Linked DNA regions of Homo sapiens: region 2 is linked to region 1. The links come from fine-mapping of genetic effects on gene expression. A gene starts in region 1. The other region holds a variant in brackets. All regions are shown on one strand. Distances are between the middles of the regions.

Region 1 (4,385 bases):
CCTCCCAAAGTGCTGGGATTACAGGCATAACATGGCCCGGCCCTGGCCATGTTTTTAACTGTGTTTCTCTAATAGCTAATAATGCCGAGCATCTTTTTATGTGTTTCTTAGCCATTAGTAGATCTTTTTTGGTAAAATGTCTTTTTTTTTTTTTTTGGTCCATCTTAAAATTGTTTTTTGTTTTGTTTTGAGACAGGGTCTCACTTTGTTGCCCACGCTGGAGTGCAGTGGCTCAATCATGGCTCACTGCAGCTTCGACATCCCTGAGCTCAGGTGATCCTCCCACCTAAGTTTCCCGAGTAGATGGGACTACAGGTGTGTGCCACCATGCCCAGCTAATTTTTGTATTTTTTTTGTAGAGGTGGGGTTTTGCTATGTTGCCCAGGCAGGTCTTAAACTTCTGAGGCTCAAATGATCCTCCCACCTCAGCCTCCCAAAGTGCTGGGATAACAGGCATGAACCACCACACCCAGCTAAGATTGTTTTTAAAAATCTTTTTCTTGAGTTTTGGGAGTTTTTATGTGTTAGGGATACCAGTCCCTTATGAGGTATATAATTAGCAAGTAGTTTCTCCCACTCTGTGACTGTGACCTTTCTTTTTTTGAGGCAGGGTCTCACTCTGTTACTCAGGCTGGAGGGCAGTGGTGTGATCATGGCTCACTGCAACCTGGAACTCCTAGGCTCAAGGGCTCCTCCCACCTCAGCCTCCCAAGTAGCTGGGTCTACAGGTGTGTTATTGTGCCAGGGTTAATGTTTTAAATTTTTTGTAGAGATAATGTCTCTACAAAAGACACCATCTTTGTTGCCTAGGCTGGTCTTGAACTCCTGGCTTCAGGGAATCCTCCAGCCTCAGCCTCCCAAAGTGCTGGGATTACAGCATGAGCCACATCCAGCCTATGATTTTTCTTCTTTTCTTTTCTTTTCTTTTCTTTTTTTTTTGAGATGGAGTCTCGCTGTTGCGCAGGCTGGAGTGCAGTGGGGCGATCTCGGCTCACTGCAGGCTCTGGCCCGCGGGGTTCACGCCTTTCTCCTGCCTCAGCCTCCCGAGTAGCTGGGACTACAGGCGCCCGCCACATCGCCCGGCTAATTTTTTGTATTTTTAGTAGAGACGGGGTTTCACCGTGTTAGCCATGATGGTCTCGATCTCCTGACCTCGTGATCCGCCCGCCTCGGTCTCCCAAAGTGCTGGGATCACAGGCGTGAGCCACGGCGCCCGGCCCCAGCGTATGACTTCTTAATGATGTCTTTGTAGTACAAGAGTTTTTAATTTTAATAAAGTTAACTTTTTTTTAAATTGTACAAGCTTTTAGTGCTGTGTCTAACAACTTGTTGCCAAACCCAAGGTCATAAAGCTGTTCTCTTACGTTTTCTTTTTTTTTTTTTTTTGAGACGGAGTCTCACTCTGTCACCCAGGCTGGAGTGCAATGGCACGATGTCGGCTCACTGCAACCTCCGCCACCCGGGTTCAAGCGATTCTTCCGCCTCAGCCTCCGGGGTAGCTGGGATTACAGGCGCACGACACCACGCCCTGCTAATTTTTGTATTTTTGTAGAGAAGGTTTCACCATGTTAGTTAGGCTGCTTTACGTTTTCTTTTAGAAGTTTTATATTTTTGGCTCTTATATTTAGTTTGTGATCCATTGAGTTGATTTTATGTACGTATGTATGGTCGCGTTCTTTTCTTTCCTGTCTTTTTTTTTTTTTTTTTTTGCATATGGATATTCAATTCTCCTAGCTCCATTTAATTTGAAATGATTGGGCAGGTACTTTTGAGCAGTGCAAGTACAGAGCGGCACTGCCAGCAGACTACACGCGGTAGAAAGCCGACCTTGGTGAGCGTGTTGGTGCTCGACAGTGAGCAGAGAAAGGATGGACGATTACGGAGCGCCCTCGTCTCCAGTTACCGCTTTCTGGAAACACCATCCGCCGGGGCGGAGCTGTTCCGCCCCGGTGCGGTACTACGACTCCCAGCATGCACCTCGCAGTCGGCCCTCGGTGGAAGCGGGAACCCAGGAGGACCTGGGGGTGTGGCAGCGAGGAAGGGCCGAGCCACGGACTGTGGGGCCGAAACTCGCTCCCGCCCACCCTTTCTCGAGGCTGTGGCCTCCGCGAGAGCCGAGCGGGCCGCACCGCCGGCCGTGCGACTGCCCCAGTCAGACACGACCCCGGCTTCTAGCCCGCCTAAGCCTGTTTGGGGTTGCTGACTCGTTTCCTCCCCGAGTTTCCCGCGGGAACTAACTCTTCAAGAGGACCAACCGCAGCCCAGAGCTTCGCAGACCCGGCCAACCAGAGGCGAGGTTGAGAGCCCGGCGGGCCGCGGGGAGAGAGCGTCCCATCTGTCCTGGAAAGCCTGGGCGGGTGGATTGGGACCCCGAGAGAAGCAGGGGAGCTCGGCGGGGTGCAGAAGTGCCCAGGCCCCTCCCCGCTGGGGTTGGGAGCTTGGGCAGGCCAGCTTCACCCTTCCTAAGTCCGCTTCTGGTCTCCGGGCCCAGCCTCGGCCACCATGTCCCGCCAGACCACCTCTGTGGGCTCCAGCTGCCTGGACCTGTGGAGGGAAAAGAATGACCGGCTCGTTCGACAGGCCAAGGTAACACGGTTGCTGGCACCCTCGGTTTGCAGCCTCAAGATCCCTGAAAGCGGGTTTGCAGTGGATTTACCCCAACCGATGGGGAGGGACTGAGCTTGACCAAAGAGCCAGAAATGACTGGAGAATGCATCCCTTGCCACTGCTGCAAGGGGAGAAAAAAGGATTGATCCTCAGTGACAACCCCTCCCTCATGTGGCAGGTGGCTCAGAACTCCGGTCTGACTCTGAGGCGACAGCAGTTGGCTCAGGATGCACTGGAAGGGCTCAGAGGGCTCCTCCATAGTCTGCAAGGTAGGCGGGTCCTCCCCAGGATGGTCAGTTCCCCTCTTCCATAGCCAGAGAAACATCCGCTCCTGCGTTTTTGGGATCGATATAATTACTCGGGGCAGGGAGTCCTGTTTAAGGCACAGAGGAGACTGGAGTGGAATCATCTTTGTACAGGCAAATCCCTCTCTTCCTTACACACTCACAGAGTGGCATTTGAAAAATGGTTTCCAAGATGGTCTGATCTGGATAACTTTTTTGCCCTTTCCAGACTCTCTGTCCAAAGGTTGGGTTCTTTTTTTAAATCCTTAGCTAATTGGCTGGAGGGTGGGTTCTTTATTGTAGCTGTTTTGGTTGGAGTGGGGTGATCTCTGAGTTGGGATTTTATTTGGAGGATCTTCCATGGGGGAGCAGTCTGTAAGACCAACATTGTTGCTCCAGGGCTCCCTGCAGCTGTTCCTGTTCTTCCCTTGGAGCTGACTGTCACCTGCAACTTCATTATCCTGAGGGCAAGCTTGGCCCAGGGTTTCACAGAGGATCAGGCCCAGGATATCCAGCGGAGCCTAGAGAGAGGTGAGGGCCAGAGATTGTCCCTGATTCCCCTGCCATCTTCAGTCTGGGTTTAAGTTATTGCAGGGAGATGGGAGGATAAACAACATCTGTCACCTCCATGGAGAGAGGTGCCCTTCTCTGTGCTCTTCAGACCAGGTTGAGGTATTATTATTGTGACCTTTGGGGTCCTGCAGGAGAGGAAAGCCAGAGTGTGTGGGGAGATGGAGGATGAGGTGCTACTTCAGCTGTGTGTGTGTCTATGTGTGTGTGTATACTCTACAGTGCTGGAGACACAGGAGCAGCAGGGGCCCAGGTTGGAACAGGGGCTCAGGGAGCTGTGGGACTCTGTCCTTCGTGCTTCCTGCCTTCTGCCGGAGCTGCTGTCTGCCCTGCACCGCCTGGTTGGCCTGCAGGCTGCCCTCTGGTTGAGTGCTGACCGTCTTGGGGACCTGGCCTTGTTACTAGAGACCCTGAATGGCAGCCAGGTAATAGGGAAAGTGACCTGAAGCTGAGGGTCTCCTCCTTCCTTCCTCCTCCTTTCTCTCCAGCTGCAGTAGCATCATCATGTACTGGACAGGCGGCTGGGTTGGTGGTCGGAAAACCTGGATTCTCTCTGGGACTCTTGGGTGACCTTGCCCTGGTTGGTCTCTCATTGTGGGGATTCTCTTAGGAGTGTTTTTTAAAAATTGGACAGGCATGGTGGCTCATACCTGTAATCTCAGCACTTTGGGAGGCTGAGGTAGGAGGATCACTTGAACCCAAGAGGTGGAGGCAACAGTGAGTTGTGAGCTATGATCACGCCACTGCACTCCAGCCCTGCAGCCTGGGTGACAGAGGGAGACCCTGTCTCAAAAAAAAAAAAAATTTTTTTTTGGATAGGGATAGGGCTCTTGTGATCTTGCTCAAGTCAGCTCTCAGCCTTAGTCTCCTTATTAGTAACTCAAATATGGTCCTTGCCCTGAGTGAGGAGGCACGCTGGAATAG
Region 2 (4,389 bases), 110 kb after region 1:
GGCACCAGATCATCTGTCACTGGATGGAACCTGAGCCCATTCCTGATACTTGTCCCTGCTTGAGCAGGACCCAGTGCTCCCCCAATCTGCCCAGCGTGCCTCCCAGGCCCTTGTCACCCAGTATCCCAGGAACATTTGCCCCAACTGGCCCTCACCTGGGGACGCAACTGCTGCAGAAGCAGGAGGGACTCATGGGACAAGAAGTCAGGCCACTCTATGTGGCCTCGATGTTCAGGGTCCAGGGCAGCAAACTGGCGGGCCGCCTGCTCTTCTTGCTCCTCACTCAGGGCCCTGTCACGGTCCCCCCGCTTGGCTGCTTGGTGGCGGTAACGCAGAAAGTCCTCCAGTGTCAGGGAGCAATCTGTGGGAGGCACCCCGTGCTAGCCATGCCCATCCTTCCTCAGCCTCAGGGCACCTCCATCACCTCCAGGGCACCCTCGGGGCCCCCAAACCCACAGCTCTTGCTAAGTCTCTGCCTCCCATGGCCAGGGTCACCCAGGCTGTGACAGGGATAGGTGACTCTGCTGGCCAACAACTCAGGAACAAGGACTCATTTACCCTCTACCCACTAAATATGGAACACTCCTTTCATGGTTCATTCTAGAAAGCCTGAAGGAGAAATCTGCCCGGCCCCTCTCCATCCATGCAGCACCACCCAACCTTACCAGGGATGACTTTACACCGCTGAAAGGTCTCCGTGAGGCTATACATTTCCTCCTCAGTAAGCAGCAAGTTGATGTTGTCCTGAAAATAAGGAAGAGCTGAGTCGGTGGCCATACAGGCCAGTAAGAAAGGCCAGGGTCAAGGGGGCTAGAAATAGAATTTCAACTGGAAAGCAGTTCCAAGATCATCTAATCCCAGCCTCCTATTCACAATCAATGAGATTGAGGCCCCAGAGAGGAGAAAGGACTTGGCCAGAGTTGTCTTTACTCTGGGGCAGAATCTTCCCCAAGAACCCAGATATCCTGACTCCAGCACTGAGTCCCTTTACTAAAACAGTGGTTTTCTCCTCTGAGCTAACCTAGGGATTTCTTGGAAGTGCCTTAGGAAGCTGCTGCAGGGAATAAGGGGGCTAGTGAGTAGGCAGGTTGTGAATCCCTATCTCCATCAAGCAGAGCGGCTCCATCTCCATCCCTTTTATCTACTTGGCTTCTGTGTTAGGCTGTGCTAAAAATGTATTTTAGTTAAAAAAAAAAAAAGTTTAATCCTAGCTCTGCTCCAAGTGGGTTGTATCACTTTAAATAACCCCAGAATGGTTTTAAAAGATGCCATTATTACAAGGCTCCTAAAGCCAAATGAGTTTTTTTGTAGTGCCACAGAAGTTTTAATTCCAAAGGAGCACCAATATCTTATTGTGTTGACGTTACCATACAGTCTTTAAACTATCAAAGATCCTTTCTAGTACAAGGTCATTTTCTTCCTCTGAGATACCCGCAAAGTACAAGAGCAGATATTTCATGAGTATTCATACGTGGATTTCATAAAGAACTCAAACCATTCTTTTTCTTCCATAACACTTTTTAAAAACTAATATATAATAGTTGTATTTTTCTTTCAAACCATACTTTCAATAAACACCTACTGAGCACCTAGTAAACACTGGGCGCCACAGTGGTGTGTAACACTGTGAGATGTTCAGTGTGGCTGAGGTTTGGAGTACATGTGAGTGTGTGTGTGAGGGAAGGAGGGGGCCTACTATGAAGTACCTCCAATACCCTTTATCGAGCCCCTCAAATTAGGCCTTTATTCTGAGGGCAAAAGGGAGCCACCAAAGGGTTTTCAAGTGGGGAGTGCCGTGGTCAGATCTCTGGCTGCTGTGTGGAAGATGGATTAGAGCGGCAGAGTCTGGAGGTGTGGAGAGCAGTTGGGGGCTGCCGCAACAGTCCAGGCAAGAAATGATGAGCAGCTAAACTGAGAC[A/G]TGAGAATGAAGAAGGGAAGAGAGATATTAGAGGCAGCATCATCAGGACCTGATGACTCACTGGATGTGAGGCATGAGGGAGAGATTGAACTGGAATTGGTAACTGGGGCATGGTATTACTATTCACAGAGATAAGGAGTGGAGGAAGAGCAGGTTTGGGGGCAAAGATGAGTTCATTTTGGGGCATGATGAGTGTGAAGTACTTGTGAGATATCAAGGTGGATAAGTGCAAGAGACAGGAAATTTAGGTCTGGACACACAGAAATAGGAGTCATTAGTGTTTAGATGGTGGCTGTAGATGAAGTCACCAAAGAGGGCGCAGTGAGAAAAGAAGAGTATTAAACAACAGAACCCTGAGAAACAGGACTGAGACAAGAAACTAACAAAGGGCATTGAGAAAGAATGGTCAGAGACTAAGGCTGGAAGAGCATCAGTAGAGAAGAAGGTACTGGATACCAAGCAAAGACAGCTGCAGAATGTGGGAGGTAATGTTAACGGTGGTTACACCACTGAGGTGGGATTTTATTGACTTTCTATTTTCTCTCATTTCCATATCTTATGCAATAATTCTCATAAAAATACTTAAATCCTAAAGAAAAGAGAGAGGAATAAAGAAGTAATAAATACTTCAGAGAGATCAAGTAAGAAGATGCCTCAGAAAAGGTCAGTGGACTTGACAATTAGGAGGTGACTGGTGACCTTAGGAAGCAACAGTTCTGCAGAATGATGGATGCAGATGTCAGATTATATGATAGGTGGTTGAAAAACCATAGGAGATGGTGAAATTCTTTTAAGAAGTTTGGCTGTGGGGCCAGGTGCAATGGCTTGTGCCTGTAGTCCCAGCTACTGAGGAAGCTGAGGCAGGAGGATTGCTTAGGTCTAGGAGTTCAAGGCTGCAGTGCTACGATCGCACCACTGCACTTCAGCCAGGTGACACAGTGAGACCCTGTCTCATAAAAAGAAAAAAAAGAAGAAGAAGATTTGTTGGCTGTGAAGGGAAGGAAAGAAAGGAGAGGTACTTGGAAGGAGGCTCTGTAAAAAGCCCAGTGGAGCATGGTGGCAATGATGGTAGGACTGTGTCAGGAAGCTGGGGAGGGAGCAGTGTGTTCCTGGGGGTTAGGGAGGTGACCCCTTCACCCCAGTCCTATAGCAGCAGCACACCGCAAAGCAGAGTGGCCGAGATGAAAGGATGGCATTTGGAAGGGGTGACAGGCACTAGAGAAGGTCGCCGGTACAGCAGGGTCTGCTGCAGTGTACTCCATGGGGACAGGTGTTTCAGTGGCTGAAAATAGCTGTTCCATAACAAGCCATAGAGGAAGAGTTATTTGTTAGAAAGTGGCACATCTCTGCTTTCGTCTAAGCAGCAGGAAGAAGGGGGGATCAGCAGGTGCTCCTCACTCTGAAATCAATAAACAATGACGATATCTGCAGGACAACAGATCAATAAGGCAAGACTTGAACTCTATTCAGGTGTAGTGAGAAATGGATATAAATCTGGCTTTCAATGGAAACCTTAGACTCTGTCCTTCATTAAAAGTTAGAAGGCATTTATATATAATTTGCGAAGTTCTGAATCAATAGAGCTTTGTCATTTAATTCACATAATAACCACTTCAAAGAGGAAGAGCAAATGCTTATGAGTCAGGTGGCAGGCTGAGTGAGGATCTCAGGCCTAGGAAGTTTTCCTGTGATAGAATCTACCCCTACTGGAAGCAAGCTGGTTAGGATCTCAGGTTAGTTTTCATATGGATACAATGAATGACAACTATAGACTATTAGAGAAAGAACTGCTCCAAGCAGAATTACTTTTGAGTAATTAGGCCCCAGTCAATCTCCTAGCTCAGAGGTTCTCTACCGGGGGTGATTTTGCTACCTTCACATTGAGATGTATGCTACCGGCATCTAGGGGATTAAGGCCAGGGTGCCGCTAAACATCCTACAATGCACTTGGCCCCTCAAACAAGTAACTAGCCAGCCTAAAATGTACTGAGGTTGAGAAACCCCATCCTAGCTCTAGGTCTCTTGTATGTACCATTGGAAAAATCTTTTTTTTTTTTTTTTTTTCGAGACAGAGTCTCGCTCTGTCGCCAGGCTGGAGTGCAGTGGCGCGATTTCGGCTCGCTGCAACCTCCGCCTCCTGGGTTTAAGTGATTCTCCTACCTCAGCCTCCCGAGTAGCTGGGACTACAGGCGCGTGCCACCACGCCCAGCTAATTTTTGTATTTTTAGTAGAGATGGGGTTTCACCATGTTGGCCAGGATGGTCTCAATCTCTTGACCTCGTGATCTTCCGGCACTGGCCTCCCAAAGTGCTGGGATTACAGGCATGAGCCACCGCGCCCAGCCCATTGGAAAATTCTTTAGGTCACTGCCTAAAATCAAGTGTTCTAAGACCGGGCCTCCAGGAAAAGTGCCAAGTCCTCTGCTGTCCCTGCAGTCCAGACTTACACAGTAGTGGCAGCTCCAGCCTGTT

The links. PIP is the estimated chance that this variant, and not a neighbour inherited with it, causes the effect.
Region 2: its variant is fine-mapped to the expression of FANCG in whole blood (TOPMed, PIP above 0.99).

What each region holds. Positions count from the first base shown.
Region 1 is chr9:35,077,642-35,082,026 of GRCh38, reverse strand. FANCG (FA complementation group G) reads left to right here and starts at 2,085. Exons shown (of 14, transcript NM_004629.2): 1 at 2,085-2,586; 2 at 2,786-2,876; 3 at 3,291-3,422; 4 at 3,684-3,886. The coding sequence starts at 2,503. RefSeq lists enhancers at 633-1,239, 2,456-3,063 and a silencer at 2,215-2,380.
Region 2 is chr9:34,972,507-34,976,895 of GRCh38, reverse strand. It overlaps PHF24 (PHD finger protein 24), which reads right to left. Exons shown (of 8, transcript NM_015297.3): 3 at 4,365-4,389; 4 at 666-744; 5 at 156-361. Among named protein-coding and RNA genes, the nearest start is that of DNAJB5-DT, 15 kb to the left of the region's middle. The variant A/G (reference allele first, on the strand shown) is at 1,919.